2 separate regions of the Homo sapiens genome follow, and region 2 is linked to region 1. The links come from fine-mapping of genetic effects on gene expression. Tissue or cell type: naive CD8 T cells. Region 1 holds a variant in brackets; the other region holds the start of a gene. All regions are shown on one strand. Distances are from middle to middle.

The links. PIP is the estimated chance that this variant, and not a neighbour inherited with it, causes the effect.
Region 2: it holds the start of ZNF687, and the variant in region 1 is fine-mapped to the expression of ZNF687 in naive CD8 T cells (Schmiedel 2018, PIP 0.95).

Annotation. Positions count from the first base shown.
Region 1 is chr1:151,413,694-151,421,796 of GRCh38, forward strand. The region is part of intron 10 of POGZ (pogo transposable element derived with ZNF domain); the gene reads right to left. Among named protein-coding and RNA genes, the nearest start is that of PSMB4, 18 kb to the left of the region's middle. The variant C/CCA (reference allele first, on the strand shown) is at 3,995.
Region 2 is chr1:151,277,641-151,285,743 of GRCh38, forward strand. It overlaps ZNF687 (zinc finger protein 687), which reads left to right and starts at 4,659. Exons shown (of 9, transcript NM_020832.3): 1 at 4,659-4,755. It overlaps ZNF687-AS1 (ZNF687 antisense RNA 1), which reads right to left and starts at 4,289. Exons shown (of 2, transcript NR_135595.1): 1 at 3,903-4,289; 2 at 2,384-2,618. RefSeq lists silencers at 3,539-3,879, 4,561-4,840, 5,121-5,280 and enhancers at 3,622-4,506, 4,001-4,200, 4,231-4,460, 4,507-5,392, 5,701-5,770.

The DNA.
Region 1 (8,103 bases):
TTTTGAGACAGAGTCTCGTTCTGTCTCGCACGCTAGAGCGCAGTGGCTCAATCATGGCTCACTGCAACCCTGACCTCCCAAGCTCAAGCAATCCTCCCATCTCAGCCTCCCAAAGTACCAGAATTACAGGTATGAGCCACTGTGCCTAGCCAAGTAATTTTTTAAAGTAAAACAAACAAACAAAAGCCAGGGGTTCTTAATCTGGGGTCTATGGAACAGGCCTCTAGGAATCCAGGCTTTCTCTGAAATTATTTGCAAAAGAGTAAAATGTAGATTTTTCTAGGAAGAGGATTCAAACATTTCATATTTATTCTCAAAGAGGTCTGCAACTCCATTTAGAAACACTGTCTACAGGTACATTAGGTGCTATGAGGACATGGATAAATAAGAAATTCTGCATAAAGGAATGAGGAAAAGCTATAACAACATATAAAAGCTGAATTGTCAAAGAATGGGGCTCAGCCAGCCAGAGAGAGGACCAAGAGAAAAGCAGGAGGAAAGGCAAGTAGGTATGAAAGTTAACCACATGTTTGGGAAACAGTTAACTAGCAACATAACGATATTATCTCTTTTCCACTCACCCCCCGATTTGTTTACCTCTCTCATTTTTCTCTTCTAGAACACCTTTAAGCAATATTTTGTCCAGGCCTTTCTTAGTCTATGTTTTCCCTGGGCAATCTCATTCACTCTTTCTCCTATAACCTATTTATCAGCTCTATTTTCACAGCTGTCATGCAACATCAATAATAAAAACACTTATTAAGCAATTTCTAATGTACAAGCATCAGGTTAAGATTTACATGTGTTGGCTGGGCACGGTGGCTCATGCCTGTAATCCCAACACTTTGGGAGGCCAAGGCAGGCGGATCACCTGAGGTTGGGAGTTCAAGACAAGCCTGACCAACATGGAGAAACCCTGTCTCTACTAAAAATACAAAATCAGCCGGGCACAGTAATGCATGTCTGTAGTCCCAGCTACTTGGGAGGCTGAGGCAAGAGAATCGCTTGAAGCTGGGAGGCAGAGGCTGCGGTGAGCCAAGATGGCGCCACTACACTCCAGCCTGGGCAACAAGAGCGAAACTCCCTCAAAAAAAAGAAAAAAAAGATTTACATTGTGTTATCTCAAGAAAACTAGTGAGGTAGGAACTCAAATATAAGGGGATTTAAGAGATCTCTGGTAACCTTTGACACATCAGTTCTACAGGGGAAGGAGCTAATACAGAAAAAGATTCAAGAGGGAAAATGAATTGATTCTCCATGGTGGCTGTCCTAACTGTCCCTCTGAGCACCATCACCCTCCTTAACACCTAACACAATCTCCTACTTTGAGGAAATAGGCATGAACAACTGTAACTTCTGCTGCTTGTTTTCCAAATTATGGAAGGATAGATCTCTTGTACCTTCCTAAGGCTCATCCAACCTCATCATGCCATGTATTCCAAGATTTTGTCAATTTGTTTTCCCTGTCTTCAATCTTCCCCAACCCCGACAGGCTCCGACTCCTAAACATGGTTAAGCTCCTTAAAGCATCCTTCTCTCAATCCTATTTCTTCCTCAAACTTTCTCCTTTCCACTAACACAAGATTTTTTGAAAGATTAGAATAACCTACATCTGTTACCTTTAATGAGATGCTCAGGAAGTGGAGGTAACAATGCCAGGAAGAAAAATGTTATAATATTTGAAGAAATGGGCCGGGTGTGGTGGCTCACGCCTGTAATCCCAGCACTTTGGGAGGCCGAGGCCGGTGGATCACGAGTTCAGGAGATCGAGACCATTCTATCCTGGCTAACACGATGAAACCCCGTCTCTACTAAAAATGCAAAAAAATTAGCCGGGCGTGGTGGTGGGTGCCTGTAGTCCCAGCTACTCGGGAGGCTGAGGCAGAAGAATGGCGTGAACCCAGGAGACAGAGCTTGCAGTGAGCCGAGATCGCACCACTGCACTCCAGCCTGGGCAAAAGAGCGAGACTCCGTCTCAAAAAAAAAAAAAAAAAAAAGAATATTTGAAGAAATGTACCTTAAGATAGCCACTATGGAAAACAGGAATAATAACTAACAGTCTTAACCATTTTTTAGTCCCAAATCTCACACTAACAAAAGCTATGCAACCTCTCCCTTGAAAAATGCACACACACAGGCAAAGTTTATATGTAATTTCAAGGGGCTCACAGGACACCTCACCACCAAGCAGGTTAAGATTTCTGTATTAGACATAAATATTAAAAGACTATGAATCAGGGCCGGGTGCACTGGCTCACGCCTGTAATCTCAGAGCTTTGGGAGGCAGAGGCAGGCGGATCATCTGAAGTCAGGAGTTCAAGACCAGCCTGGCCAACATGGCGAAACCCCGCCTCTAATACAAAAATTAGCCGGGTGTGGTGGTGCACGCCTGTAATCCCAGCTACTCGGGAGGCTGAGGCAGAAGAATTGCTTGAACCTGTGACGCGGAGGTTGCAGTGAGCTGAGACTGTGCCACTGCACACACCAGCCTGGGTGACAAGAGTGAAACTCCATCTCAAAAAAAAAAAAAAAAAAAAAAAAAGAAAAAGAAAGAAAAGAAAAAAAAAAAGACTATGAATCAGACAGAGTGCGGTGGCTCACGCCTGTAATCCCAGCACTCTGGGAGGCCAAAGCGGGTGGCTCACTTGAGGCTAGGAGTTAGAGACCAGCCTGGCCAACATGCCTGTAGTCCCAGCTACTTGGAAGGATGAGGCAGGAGAACTGCCTGAACCCAGGAGGCTTAAGTTGCACTGAGCTGTGATTGCGTCACTGCATTCCAGCCTGTGTGACAGGGTGAGATTCTGTCTCAAAAAAGACTAAGAATCAGCATTAGACAAACTTATGAAAAGAACCCTAGGGCCATACAAGCTCCTTCAAGTCACTGCACTGCTCTTAAACAAGTGTGAATAAAAATGTAATACTACTTTTTGGGTTTTTTTTTTTTTTTTGAGATAGGGCCTTACTCTGTCACCCAGGCTGGAGAGCAGTGGTGTGATCATATCTCACTGCTGGCTCGACTTGCTGGGCTCAAACAATCCTCCCACCTCAGCCTCTTGAGCAGCTGGGGCTACAGGCACAAGCCACCACACCTGGCTAATTAAAAAAAAATACAAAAACAGAGAGAGATAAGGTCTCACTATATTCGCCAGGCTGTTCTCAAACTCCTGGGCTCAAGCAATCCTCACGCCTTGGCCTCCCAAAGTGCTAGGATTAGAGGCATGAGTCACCATGCCTTGGCCTGTAATGTTATTAAGATGATACTGTTATCACAATTAAATATAATGATCCACTGATATTCTGGGGACAACTCAGAAAATTTTTAAATAAAGTAGGTATTGAATGTTATTAAGGATTTCTGATTAATTCTGTTAGATCTTTTTTTTTTTTTTGAGACGGAGTCTTGCTCTGTCGCCAGGGTGGAGTGCAATGGTGCGATCTCAGCTCACTGCAACCTTCGCCTCCCGGGTTCAAGTAATTCTCCTGCCTAAGCCTCCCGAATAGCTGGGATTAGAGGCGCGTGCCACCACACACGGCTAACTTTTTGTATTTTAGTAGAGATGGAGTTTCACCATGTTGTCTGGGATGGTCTCGATATCCTGACCTCGTGATCCACCCGCCTCGGCCTCCCAAAGTGCTGGGATTACATGCATGAGGCTCCGCGCCCGGCCCTCTTTTTTTTTTTTTGAGACAGCGTTTCACTCTTGCTGCCCAAGCTGTAGTGCAATGGTGTGATCTCAGCTTACTGCAACCTCCGCCTCCCGGGTTCAAGCAATTCTCCTGCCTCAGCTTCCCAAGCAGCTGGGATTACAAGTGTGCACCACCATGCCCAACTAATTTTTTGTATTTTTAGTACAGACAGGGTTTCACCACGTTGGCCAGGCTGGTCTTGAACTTCTGACCTTAGGTGATCCGTCCGCCTCAGCCTCCCAAAGTGCTGGGAGTACAGGCGTGAGCCACTGCGCCGGCCTATTAGATCTTAACAAAGGTACTGTGG[C/CCA]CACACACACACACACACACACACACACACACACACACACACAAAAGGCCTTATTTTTTAGAGCTACATATTAAAATATTTAGGAGAAAAATATCATGATGTCTACAATTAACAAACAATTCAGAAAATAAAAGGAAAAAAATCCCCCAAAATATTAGCATGTAAAAATAAGCTACTTTTTGAAAAGGTATCTGCACTCCCATGTTTATTGCTGCACAGTTCACAATAGGCAAAATATAGAATCAACCTAAGTGCCCACCAACAGATGAATGAATAAAGAAGATGTGGTGGCTGGGCACAGTGGCTCATGAGGTCAGGAGTTTGAGACCAGCCTGACCAACATGGTAAAACCCCGTCTCCACTAAAAAATACAAAAAAATTAGCCGGGCGTGGTGGCGTGTGCCTGTAATCCCAGCTACTCAGGAGGCTAAGGCAGGAGAATCACTTTAACCCAGGAGGTGGAGGTTGTGGTGAGCCAAGATTGCACTACCGCACCTCAGCCTGAGCGACATAGCAAGACTCCTTCTCAAAAAAAAAAAAGATGTGGTATATATACCCAGTGGAATATTATAGCCACAAAAAAGAATGAAATTCTGTCATGCAGCACATGGTTAGAACTGGAAGTCCCTAAGTGAAGTAAGCCAAGCACAAAAAGACAAATATCACATGTTCCCACTCATATGTGGGAGCTAAAAAAAAAAGTAGATCTCATGGAGAGAGAGTAGAATGGTGGTTACCAGAGGCTGGGAAGAGTAGGGGAGTAGAGAGTTGAAGAGAAGCTGATCAACAGGTACAAATATATGGTTTGAAAGAAGAAATAAGACCTAGTAGATCAGTAGGGTGACTATAGTTTACAATAACCTGTTGTAAATTTTAAAATAGCTAGAAGAGAATAATTTGAATGTTTCTAGCATAAACACATAGAGTGATGAATATTCCAAGTACACTGATTTAATATTTACAGATTATATAAATGTATATTAGATTATCACATGCATCCCTAAACCATGTACACCTATTATGCATCAATTCTTTTTTTTGAAAAAGCTACTTTTGGGCTGGGCACGGTGGCTCATGCCTGTAATCCTAGCACTTTGGGAAGCTAAGGTGGGTGGATCACGAGGTCAGGAGTTTGAGACCAGCCTGGCTAACATGCTGAAACCCCGTCTCTACTAAAAATACAAAAAATTAGCCGGGCATGGTGGTGGGCGCCTGTAATCCCAGCTACTTGGGAAGCTGAGGCAGGAGAATCGCTTGAAACCAGAAGGTGGAGGTTGTAGTGAGCTGAGATTGTGCCACCGTACTCCAGCATGGGTGAAAGAATGAAGCTCTGTCTCAAAAAAAAAAAAAAAAAAAAAAGAAAAAAAGAAAAAAAGTTACTTTCGACCGGGCATGCTGGCTCATGCCTATAATCCCAGCACTTTGGGAGGCCGATGCAGGTATATCATTTAAGGCCAGGAGTTTGAGACCAGCCTGAACGACACGGCGAAACCCCATCTCTACTAAAAATAAACAAACAAAAAAATTAACTGGGCATGGTGGCACATGCATGTAATCCCAGGAACTTGGGAGACTGAGGCACAATAATTGCTTGAACCTAGGAGGTAGAGGTTGCAGAGAGCCAAGACTGCGCCACTGCACTCCAGCCTAGGTGACAGAGCGATTGTCTCCCAAAAAAAAAGCTGAGCACGGTGGCTCACACCAGTAATCACAGCACTTTGAGGCTGAGGTGGGTGGATTGCTCGAGCTCAATAATTTGAGACCAGCCTGGGCAGCATGGCAAAACCCTATCTCTACAAAAAACACCCCCCAAAACAAAAAACCCCCCAAAATTAGCTGGGCATAGTGGCATGTGTCTGTAGTACCAGCTATTCAGGAGGCTGAGTTGGGAGGATCATCTTAGCCTGGGAAGTGGAGATTGCAGTAAGCCAAGATTGTGCCACTGCACTCCAGCTTGGCTAACAGAGTGAGACCCTGTCTCAAAAAAAAAAAAAAAAAAAAAAAAAAACTACTTTCATGCCAGATCTGTCAAGGGTGCAAAAAAGGAAATTACGAAAGACTGCAAGAATAAAATTGATATATGCTAAGGAAAGGTGATTTTGGTAAGCATAAAATCTTGTCATAAGAGACTCAAAAATTAAGTCAGGGAAACCAAGAGAAAAAAGATCAATGAGGGTCTACATTGTTTCTTTTCCATAAGGAAAAACTTATCTTCCCTCTGTGTAATTTTATTATTTGTGGAACTTCGGAATAACAAAACCCACCCCCCATATTACGCGTAAAAATGAGTTAGGTGCCCAGACTGGGCAACACAGCAAGACCCTGTCTCTACCCCCAAGAAAAGGAATAAATTAGCTGGGTGTGGTGGCATATGCCTACAGTCCCAGCTACTCAGGAGGCTGAGGTGGGAGGACTGCTTGAGCCCAGGGGTTCGAGGCTGCAGTGAGCTAAGATTGCGTCACTGCACCCCAGCCTGGGTGGCAGAGCAAGACCCTGTTGTCTCAAAAAACTGGTGTTTTCACTAAGAGGTATGGATGAGTTACTCTGGCTTCACATTACTGACAGTGAAGAATCGTGAGTCCTATTCTAGACCAAGCTGGCTACCCTGGCACTACACTGCAGTGTTACCATTGATTCTTTGTTTTTTGAGACAGAGTCTTGCTCTGTTATCCAAGCTGGAGTGCAGTGGCGTGATCATGGTTCACTCTAGCCTTGACCTACTGGGCTCAAGCAATCCTCCCACCTCTACCTCCTGAGTAGCTACGACTATAGGCGTGCGCCACCACACCCAATTTTTGTATTTTTTTTGTAGAGACGGGGTTTCTCCATGCTGCCCAGGCTGGTCTTGAACTCCTAAGCTCAATCTGCCTGCCTCGGCCTCTCAAAGTGCTGAGATTACAGGTGTGAACCACTGCACCTGGCCCGGTTGATTCTAATATACATTCTACTCCCAAATGATTAGTCCAAAGTTTCACTGTCTAATATGGTGGCACCAGCAACATGTATCTAGTGAACACTTAAAATGTGGTAAGCTCAAACCCAATTTAGATTTGTATTTCAAAAGATCTGTTTTTTAATGGAGGAAAAAAGAATGACGAATATCTCATTAATTTTAAATTTTGAGTTCATGTTGAAATATTTTTAATATACTGAATAAAATATGCTGTTAAAATTAATTTTGCCTGTTTTTTTAAACTTTACAGTAGACGCCCTTTGCCAATGGGAAATATACGTTCCAAGACCCCCAGTGCATACATGAAACCTCAGATAGTATTGAACCCTATACATACCGTGTTTTTTCATATATATATATATATATACCTATGATAAAGTTTAATTTATAAATTAGGCAAAGAGATTAACAATTAAAAATATATAATATATAAAAGGATAATTATAACAATATACTGTAATAAAAGTTATGTGAATGTGGTGTCTCTCTCAATAATCTTATTGTACTGCACTCACCTAGTTTTGGACTGTGATTGAGACTAAAATTGAGGATAAGGGAGCGCTACTGTATTTAAAGTGAAAAAAATTAAAATTACTCATGAAGCTTGCATATTTCTACTGCCTAGTGTTACTGTAAGCCATTAATGTCAATCCCACTTCCCTTGCCAATAAATGGTCAGAGATATAAAAGGAAAGCAATTCTCACTCATAAGAAAACAGATTCAAGAAAGAAAAATTGAGGATAAGGGAGCGCTACTGTATTTAAAGTGAAAAAAATTAAAATTACTCATGAAGCTTGCGTATTTCTACTGCCTAGTGTTACTGTAAGCCATTAATGTCAATCCCACTTCCCTTGCCAATAAATGGTCAAAGAGATATAAAAGGAAAGCAATTCTCACTCATAAGAAAACAGATTCAAGAAAGAAAGATGGGAAGATAAGATCTCTTCTTTGTCTAACAATTTTTTATCTGGACATAGTGCCTGACACTTATACAGCCACCCTGCTATGAGCCAGAGACAAGAGAATTGTTGAAAACCAGCAGGGCAGTCAAATTCTAGGCTGAAGCATCCATTTCTGTATCTCTCAGTTAAATGATATAACAGATATTCTTATTGTTTTCTTTTGTTTTGAGACAGAGACTCGCTCTGTCATCCA
Region 2 (8,103 bases), 140 kb before region 1:
TCATGCTTCTACTTCCTCAGCCTCCATGCTTTGGAGTCTTTTTCTTTCTTCCACACCCCACTTTCAACCCTTTTAAAACGTTTAAGTCAGGCCACCATGTCATCTGTCTCCTTTTGATGGCTTTCTAACCCACCGTGAGAAAATGCCAAAGACCTTCCCATAGCTTCCAAAGCATCCCATGACCCAATTCACTCCTCCCACCCCCTCTGGAACACACTCCCCTCCTGAGGACCTTGTACTTGTTCTTTCCTCCTGGAATGTTCTTGTCCCAGATAGCTGCATGGCTCACTCCCTCATCTCTTTCAGACCTTTACTTAACCACCATCTTCTCGAAAAGGCCTTTACTGTCCACCCTACCTAAAATTGCAACCCTCCCACACTTACTGTCATCTTTCCTTGCTTTTGTTTTTGTTTTTTTGAGACAGAGTCTTGCTCTGTCACCCAGGCTGGAGTGTGGTGGTGCGATCTCGGCTCAATGCAACTTCTGCCTCCCGGGTTCAAGCGATTCTCCTGCCTCAGCCTCCCAAGTAGCTGGGACTATAGGCGTGTGCCACCATGACCAGCTAATTTTTTGTATTTTTAGTAGAGACAGGGTTTCACCATGTTAGCCAGAATGGTCTTGATCTCCTGACCTCATGGTCCACCCGCCTCGGCCTCCCAAAGTGCTGGGATTACAGGCATGAGCCACTGCGCCCAGCCGCCTGCTTTGTTTTTTTTTTTAAATTGTTTTTGTTTTTAAATTAATACACTTTATTTTTTACAGCATTTTTAGGTTTACAGAAAAATTGAGCACAAAATGCGAGTTCCCACACATCCTCTCTCTCCAGTTTCCCCTATTATTATTATTATTTTGAGACAAGGTCTTGGTCTTTTGCCCAGGCTGGGGTGTAGTGGTGTGATTACAGCTCACTGCAACCTTGACCTCCAGGGCTCAGGTGATTCTCCCTCCTCAGCCTCCCAAGTAGCTGGGACCACAGGTGTGCACCACCATGCCACGCTACTTAAAAAAAAGTTTTTTTGTAGAGATGGGGTCTCTCCATGTTGCTCAGGTTACTCTATTATTTATTAATATCTCGCATTAGTGTGGTACATTTGTTACAATTGATGAACCAATATGGAAACATTATTATTAAGAGACAGGGTCTCACTTTGTTGCCCAGGCTGGAGTGCGGCAGCAGGATCGTAGCTCACTGCAGCCTCAAACTTCTGGGCTCAAGGGACTCTCCTGCTTCAGCCACTTGAGTAGTTGGGACTACAGGTGTGCGCCACTGTACGCGGCTAATTTTTCAAATTTTTTGTTGATCCTCCCGCTTTGGCCTCCCAAAGTTCAGGGATTACATGTGTGAGCCACCATGCTCACAGGGTTCACTCTTTGTGTTGTACATTCCATGGCTGTTGACACATGTATCCACTATTACAGTATCACATAGAATAGTTTCAGTGTTGTAAGAGTCCCCTGTGCTCCATTTATTTATTCATCTCTCTCCCTCCACCTGAACCCTCAGCAACCAACCACTGATCTTTTTACTCTCTATAGTTTTGCCTTTTCTAGAATGTCACATAGCTGGAATCATACAGCATGCAACCTTTTCAGATTGGCTTCTTTCACTTAGTCATATGCATCGAAGATTCCTCTGTCTTTGCATGGCTTGATAACTCTATTTTATTCCTTGGCAGCTACCATTTCTAATATTTATTGTTTGTCTTCTCTTTAGGAATGTGTGTTTCATGACAGGGCTTCTTGTCTGCTTTGTTCATTGCTACATCTCCAGTACCTGAAATAGTACCTCCTTCCATGGTTGTGGTAAGGACTACGTGAGTTATTAATAATATGTTTATTAATAAAATAAATAAAGTTTTTCTGTGTGTGTGTGTTTTTTTTTTTTTTTTTTTTGAGACAGAGTCTCGCTCTGTCTCCCAGGTTGGAGTGCAGTGGTGCGATCCCGGCTCACTGTAGTTTTGACTTCCTGGACTCAAGCGATCCTTCCATCCCAGCCTCCCCAGTAGCTGGGATCACAGGTGCCTGCCAACACCCCTGGCTAATTTTTTTTTCCAAATATTCTGTAGAGGCAGAGTCCTGCTGTGTTGCACAGGCTAGTCTCGAACTCCAGGGCTCAAGTGAGCTACCCACCTAGACTTCTCAAAGTGCTGGGATTACAGGCGTGAGCCCCCCAAAATATTATGTGTATATGAGTAGTAATTGTTATTCCGCATAGGGAGACCAGAAGAGGAGGTGGAAATGGAATGCCGGTTGGTTACATCGGGTTAGGGACCTTTAATTAGTTGCTCAGAGAAGGAACAGCACCTGAGCAAATGCACAGGATGCAAGGCTCCGGGAGAAAGGGCACACTAATCCCAACTGCCAATTACTTTACAAAGCGTGTTTACATTCTAAACTCATTTAATTCTCACAAAAATAATATTGTCAGGTGGGTATTATAATCCCCGTTTTACTCATGAGAAAACAGGATCTGGGAGGTTGAGCGACTTGCCCATTGCGACCATAGGGCAAGTGGTGGCTCCAGGATTCCCATCCAGAAGTTCTGATTCATACTTCAAAGGAGCTCGGAAACTCTCCGGGTGCGCCGGGGAGTCCTGGTTCCGGTGTCCTGGGACTCCTGGGCAGGGTAACGAAACCACTTTTAAAAACTTTGCCGGGCCCGGTGGGTCACATCTGTAATCCCAGCACTTTGGGAGGCCAAGGCGGATGGATGATTTGAGGTCAGGAGTTCGAGACCAGCCTGGCCAATGCGGTGAAACCCCGTCTCTACTAAAAATACAAAAATGGCCGGCCGCGGTGGCTCATGCCTGTAATCCCAGCACTTTGGGAGGCCGAGGCGGGCGGATCACGAGGTCAGGAGATCAAGACTATCCTGGCTAACACGGTGAAACCCCGTCTCTACTAAAAACACAAAAAATTAGCCGGGCATTGTGGAGAGCGCCTGCAGTCCCAGCTACTCGGGAGGCTGAGGCAGGAGAATGGCGTGAACCCGGGAGGCGGAGCTTGCAGTGAGCCGAGATCGCGCCACTGCACTCCAGCCTGGGCGACACAGCGAGACTCCGTCTCAAAAAAAAAAAAAAAAGAAAAAAACAAAAATTAGCCGGGCGGGTAGTGTCGCACACCTGTAATCCCAGCTGGTCGGAAGGCTGAGGCAGGAGAATTGCTTGAGCCTGGGAGACGGAGGTTGCCGTGAGCCGAGATCCCGCCACTGCACTCCAGTCTGGACGACAGAATGAGGCCCCGTTTCAAAAAATAAAAAATAAAAAACTTCGCCAAGGTAGGGAGTAGTGGCTCACGTCTGTAGGATTGCTTGAGACCAGCCTGGGCAACATGGCAAAACCCTGTCTCTTCAAAAAATAAAAAAGTTAGCAGGGCGATTTGGCGCTCACTTGTAGTCCCAGCTACTCAGGAGGCTGAGGCGGGAGGATCACTGGAGCCTGGGAGGTTGAGGCTGCAGTCAGCCGTGATCGCGCCACTGTGCTCCCGCCTGGGCAGCAGAGTGAGGCTCTGCCTCAAAAAAATTAATTAAAAAATAAAAACACGCCGTTAACGAGCGGCTGCGTGCGCGAGGTGGCACACTGGGCTTGCATACGAATTCTGCCAGTGAGTGCTATTAGAGCATCAAGGAGATTCATTTTCCGAGCGACTCCTCCCTTTCCCCCGCCTCCAGGGGGCGTGGCAACAAAGCGCGGGAAAACTCGACCTTGACCCCACCCCCACTCCATGCTGGGGGCGGGGAAAAGGGGAGCCCTTAAATGGGAAATGGAGCTGGCGGTTCCCCCCCCAGCCCATACTTAGGACGCCTATCAGTTGCTCCTTTAATGCCTCTTTGGAAATGGCCCGGCCACGCCAGCACTCCTACGTCACCTCCCCCGCTTCCGGTCCGCGAGCCCTTCCCAACCTTTAGGTCCCGATTCCTTCCATGCTCCAAATCCCGTGCCCCGTCCACGCCCTCCCGCAGAGGGAGGAGCGACGGGTTACGCTGTCGCCCAGGAGCTGAACCGCGCGAGGACCCCATCCATCAGATTATATGGCGATTTAGACGGTGGGAAGACCGCAAGGAAATGGTCAGCGGATGACGTAATGTTTGGGGTGGCGTCCCATTCTGTAACTTCTGTACGGCATCAGTGACACGGGTTTAGCTTGAAACAGCGCAAAAGGACCTACACTTCTGTGCTCCACTCCGACTCAATGCGGTTCTGCTCTCAGTGCCCACCACACAGAAGCTGGGTTCCTTACATTCGCGAAAGTGAACTGCAGCTTCAAGCTTCGAGCGGCCAGTAGGGAGCGAGGGGCGGAGACGCACCTGGGTGCTCCCCCTTCCAGTAGGCAAGCTGGGAAGCAGGCTGGCTTCTTTCTAAGCGACAGTGGCGGAGGCCAATCGTTTACGAGACTCGTAGATGGGGCAGACGGACCCCGGCGCAGCCAATGGGGAGAGGTATCTTCAGAGGGCCTCGGCCCCTTGCCCAATGAGCATAAGAGGACTGTGCGGGGCTAGTTCCGAGCGGCAGTATTTAGGGCCAACCCAGTGCGGGGCTGGAAGGGGCACAGGGCTGAGCGACGGGGGCAAGGGCCAATGGCGAGTGCGAAAACGGGCAGCCCAGACCTGGAGCGCGGAGGGAGGAGAGGGAGTGGGGAGGCCGAACCGGAGAGAAGCAGGAAGTAGCGGCGGCCGCGGGGAGGGCGGCGGTGGCTGCAGCGGCTGGAGCGGGGTAGAGACCGCCGGGTCTCGGCCCGCACCAGGAGCGGAACAAGTAAGCGTGCCTGGGGTAAATACCCGCCCTTGGCTCCGCCCCCTTGGGGGGGGCGGGTAAATACCCCCGCCCCTCCCCCACTTGGTCAACTACCCCCTTCTCCGCGCCGCCCCCTGGGGCGGCTTCTAGGAAGGCCCAGACACCGCCTCCATCCATTGGGGCGGATGGGCGAAACTCCTGGCCTGTTGTAAGCACAGTCCGTAGCCGGGTAAACCCCCAGGAGGGTCGAGAACCCCAGGTCCTGGCGCCCCCGGCTCGAGAGGCACCCGAAGTGCGGCCCGGAGATTGAAGGCTGCGGGATGTCGCGACCTAAAATGGTGTCCGTTCCCGGGGATGGGGGCGGGGGACCTGGGCCAGGCCGGAGCAGAACCTGCACCCCGACTGGGTGCGGGTCAGCGTCCGGGCCCGGGCAAGACTCAGGCTTGCGCCCCCGGCCCCCTGCGCACCCCCCGATCAGTCTCCAGTCTCTAGCGAGCCTCCGGGAGTGCGCGGCGGGAGGAGGCTCCGCTGCGCCCGGAGGGGAGGGGACGAGGTCCGAGTTGGGACGGACCCCAGCTAGAGAGCTGAGAGTCGCGCAGAGACCGTCCCCTCTCTCCTCCCCTCTTTCCAGCTCCCCACCCTATCCTGTGTAGTCCTGGGTCCCCAGGTGCTGCGCAGCAGCTCCCAAAGGGCCTGGCCTGGCTGAGGCCCGGCCTTCGCTTCGCACGCCGGTGCGAGTGAGAGAAGGGCCGCGCGCCTCAGTTTCCCTTGTAGTTTCTCATGTGTACACCCCGCCCCCTCCTCGAAACCCAGGACTTGCTCCCCGCGCCAGCCCTCGGCAGATGGCAGGGACTTAATTCCGTCTGCTACCCAGCTTGGCCTCAACCTAATCGCCGCCAGCCCCTCGCCCTCCTCTGCGCTGCAGGCCTTGGGCCCGGGCAAAGGTCAGTGGAGCCCCCACTCGACCTGGGCCTGTTCAGCCTCTTCCTGTTCAGCCTCTTTGGCTTTTGGGGAACCACAGAGGGAAAGGGGGCGGGGGAGATAGGAGCCCTAGAGACAGGGCTCAGCAGTCGCAGGAAGGCCTGATCCTCCTTGGCTTGAGCTTGGCGGCTTGCTTGGTCGACTGTCTGCTCTGGGTGGGTGGCCATCGGATGACCTCTAAGTCACTGGGGCACCCAAGAGGGAGGTGGCTGGCGGGGTGTGGGGGCGGGTGAGTTCGCAGGTGTTTTCTCCTAGTCCCCGCTGGTCTTCGTTGTAGCAGTCCACTTTTCTGAGTACCTGAGTGGAAGGTAGCTCAGGCCTCTGGTCAGGAGGGAACCAGGCTTAGGAGCCAGGCCTATAGAGACAAGGGTTTTTGTTTAAACCCAGATTCTGCAGAATTGAATAGGGTGGGGGTGAGGGGAGGACTCCCCCTTTGGTTTTGCCCCCACCCCAACCTTGGTCCCAGCAATCCCAGCTGCCACTTGCTGGGACTGTCTCTAGTTACAGTCTGAAGACTGGAGAGAGGTGGGAGAGCTGGCTGGGAAATGGCCTGCAACCTGGGCAGGGAATGGATAGGGATAGACTCTTTAGTTGCTTCTTCGTAGATACAGAAACACTCATGGGGAGACACTGGTAGGGGACAGACCTGGGTCTCCCACAAACTCTGAGCTGGCCTGCTTGTTGGATTAGTGCCACATAATTCTTGTGGGATTTTTAATTTTATTTTTTGCACTTGGCCAGGTTGAGGCTAGGTGAAACTTCCTGGGCTACTGTTGCCACAGGAAAATGGAAAGGGTGAGGAGTTAAAGTTAGGGGATGGAATGGGGTGAGGAGCTTGGAGCAGAAATGATGGGTGAGGGTTGAGGGAGCCTGGCTTTTTCCCACTGTGGCAGCTGTGCTGGAGAAATGTGTATGTATCTTGGGAGTTTTAGCCTCGGGAAAGCAAGATGGGGAGGGGTGGAGAAGGAAGGGCTGGCTAGGGGAGGGCCAGGCACTCTGGGGAAGGTAGTGAGCGAGCAGCAGGTGTTTGTGACAGGAGAGGTCTAGGCTGGGGCCCTTGTGACCAGGCTGCCATCACCATTTTCCCCTCTGTCTCTTCTCTTTGTCTCTTTCTGTTCCTGTGTCTTATTCTTTCCATCTTGGTCTCTTGGGTAATTTCCTTGAGTCCTTTTCTCCCTGCTGACCAAGCTAGATCTCCAGGTGCCAGTGATGGCCCAGGTGCCCTAGACTTGATCCTGCATGACCCCTGACTCTTGCCTCCGACCCCAGCCCTAGAGTTCCAGTGCTTATTCCTTTCCAGTTCCTCCTTGACCTGACATGTCCTTGCTTGGTTCATCTGGAATAGTAAATCGTATTCTTGGTGGGATTCTTACATTAGCAATTTTGTATTATGCTCAGAATAACCCTATGATACATAGATCACTTGTGCTCTCTGCCTTGTCTTGTCTTTTTTTTTTTTTTTTTTTTTTTTTTTGAGACGGTATCACTCTGTCACCCAGGCTGGAGTGCAGTGGCATGATCATGGCCCATCACAGCCTCGACCTCCCGGGCTCAGGGGATCCTCCCATGTCAGCTGGGAGGCATAGCTGGGACTACAGGCACGTGCCATCATGCCTGGGGAGTTTCACCATGTTGCCCAGGGTGGTCTTGAACTCCTGGGCCCAAGTGATTGGCCTCCCAAAGTGCTGGGATTACAGATGTGAGCCACCACACCCGGCCATTTGTGTCCTCTTTCAAACAGCAAAAGTAAGGCACTGAAGAAACTTGCTTGTACTGCACGCCCCTGATAAAGCTGAACGAGGATCATTTCTTAAGTCTTGGCTTATGGCATTGTCCCTTTGTACATGCAGCCTTTCAGATCTGTGTGGACCCCAGAAGATCCGTGAAGAATATGAATTGATTCCATGCGGACATGAATGAGTCCTTAAACCTAGAACATCATGTACATCATCCTCCTTAATAATAGTATTGATTATTTGGTTCTATGCTGGGGACCGGAGGGGATGAGATGGTTTCCACCAGAATGCTCACTGAGCTCTATTACCCTTCCCTGTTCCCTGTATTTTTTTTTTTTTTCTGAGACAGTCTTGCTCTGTCGCCCAGGTGGGAGTGCAGTGGCACGATCTCAGCTCACTGCAAACTCCACCTCCCAGGTTCAAGCAATTCTTCTGCCTCAGCCTCCCGAGTAGCTGGGACTACAGGTGTGTGCTGCCATGCCCAGCTAATTTTTGTATTTTTAGTAGAGACGGGGTTTCACTATCTTGGCCAGGATGGTCTTGATCTCCTGACCTCGTGATCCGCCCGCCTCTGCCTCCCCAAGTGCTGGGATTACAGGCGTGAGCCACCATGCCCAGCCCCCTATATTTCTTTTTTTTGAGACAGGGTCTC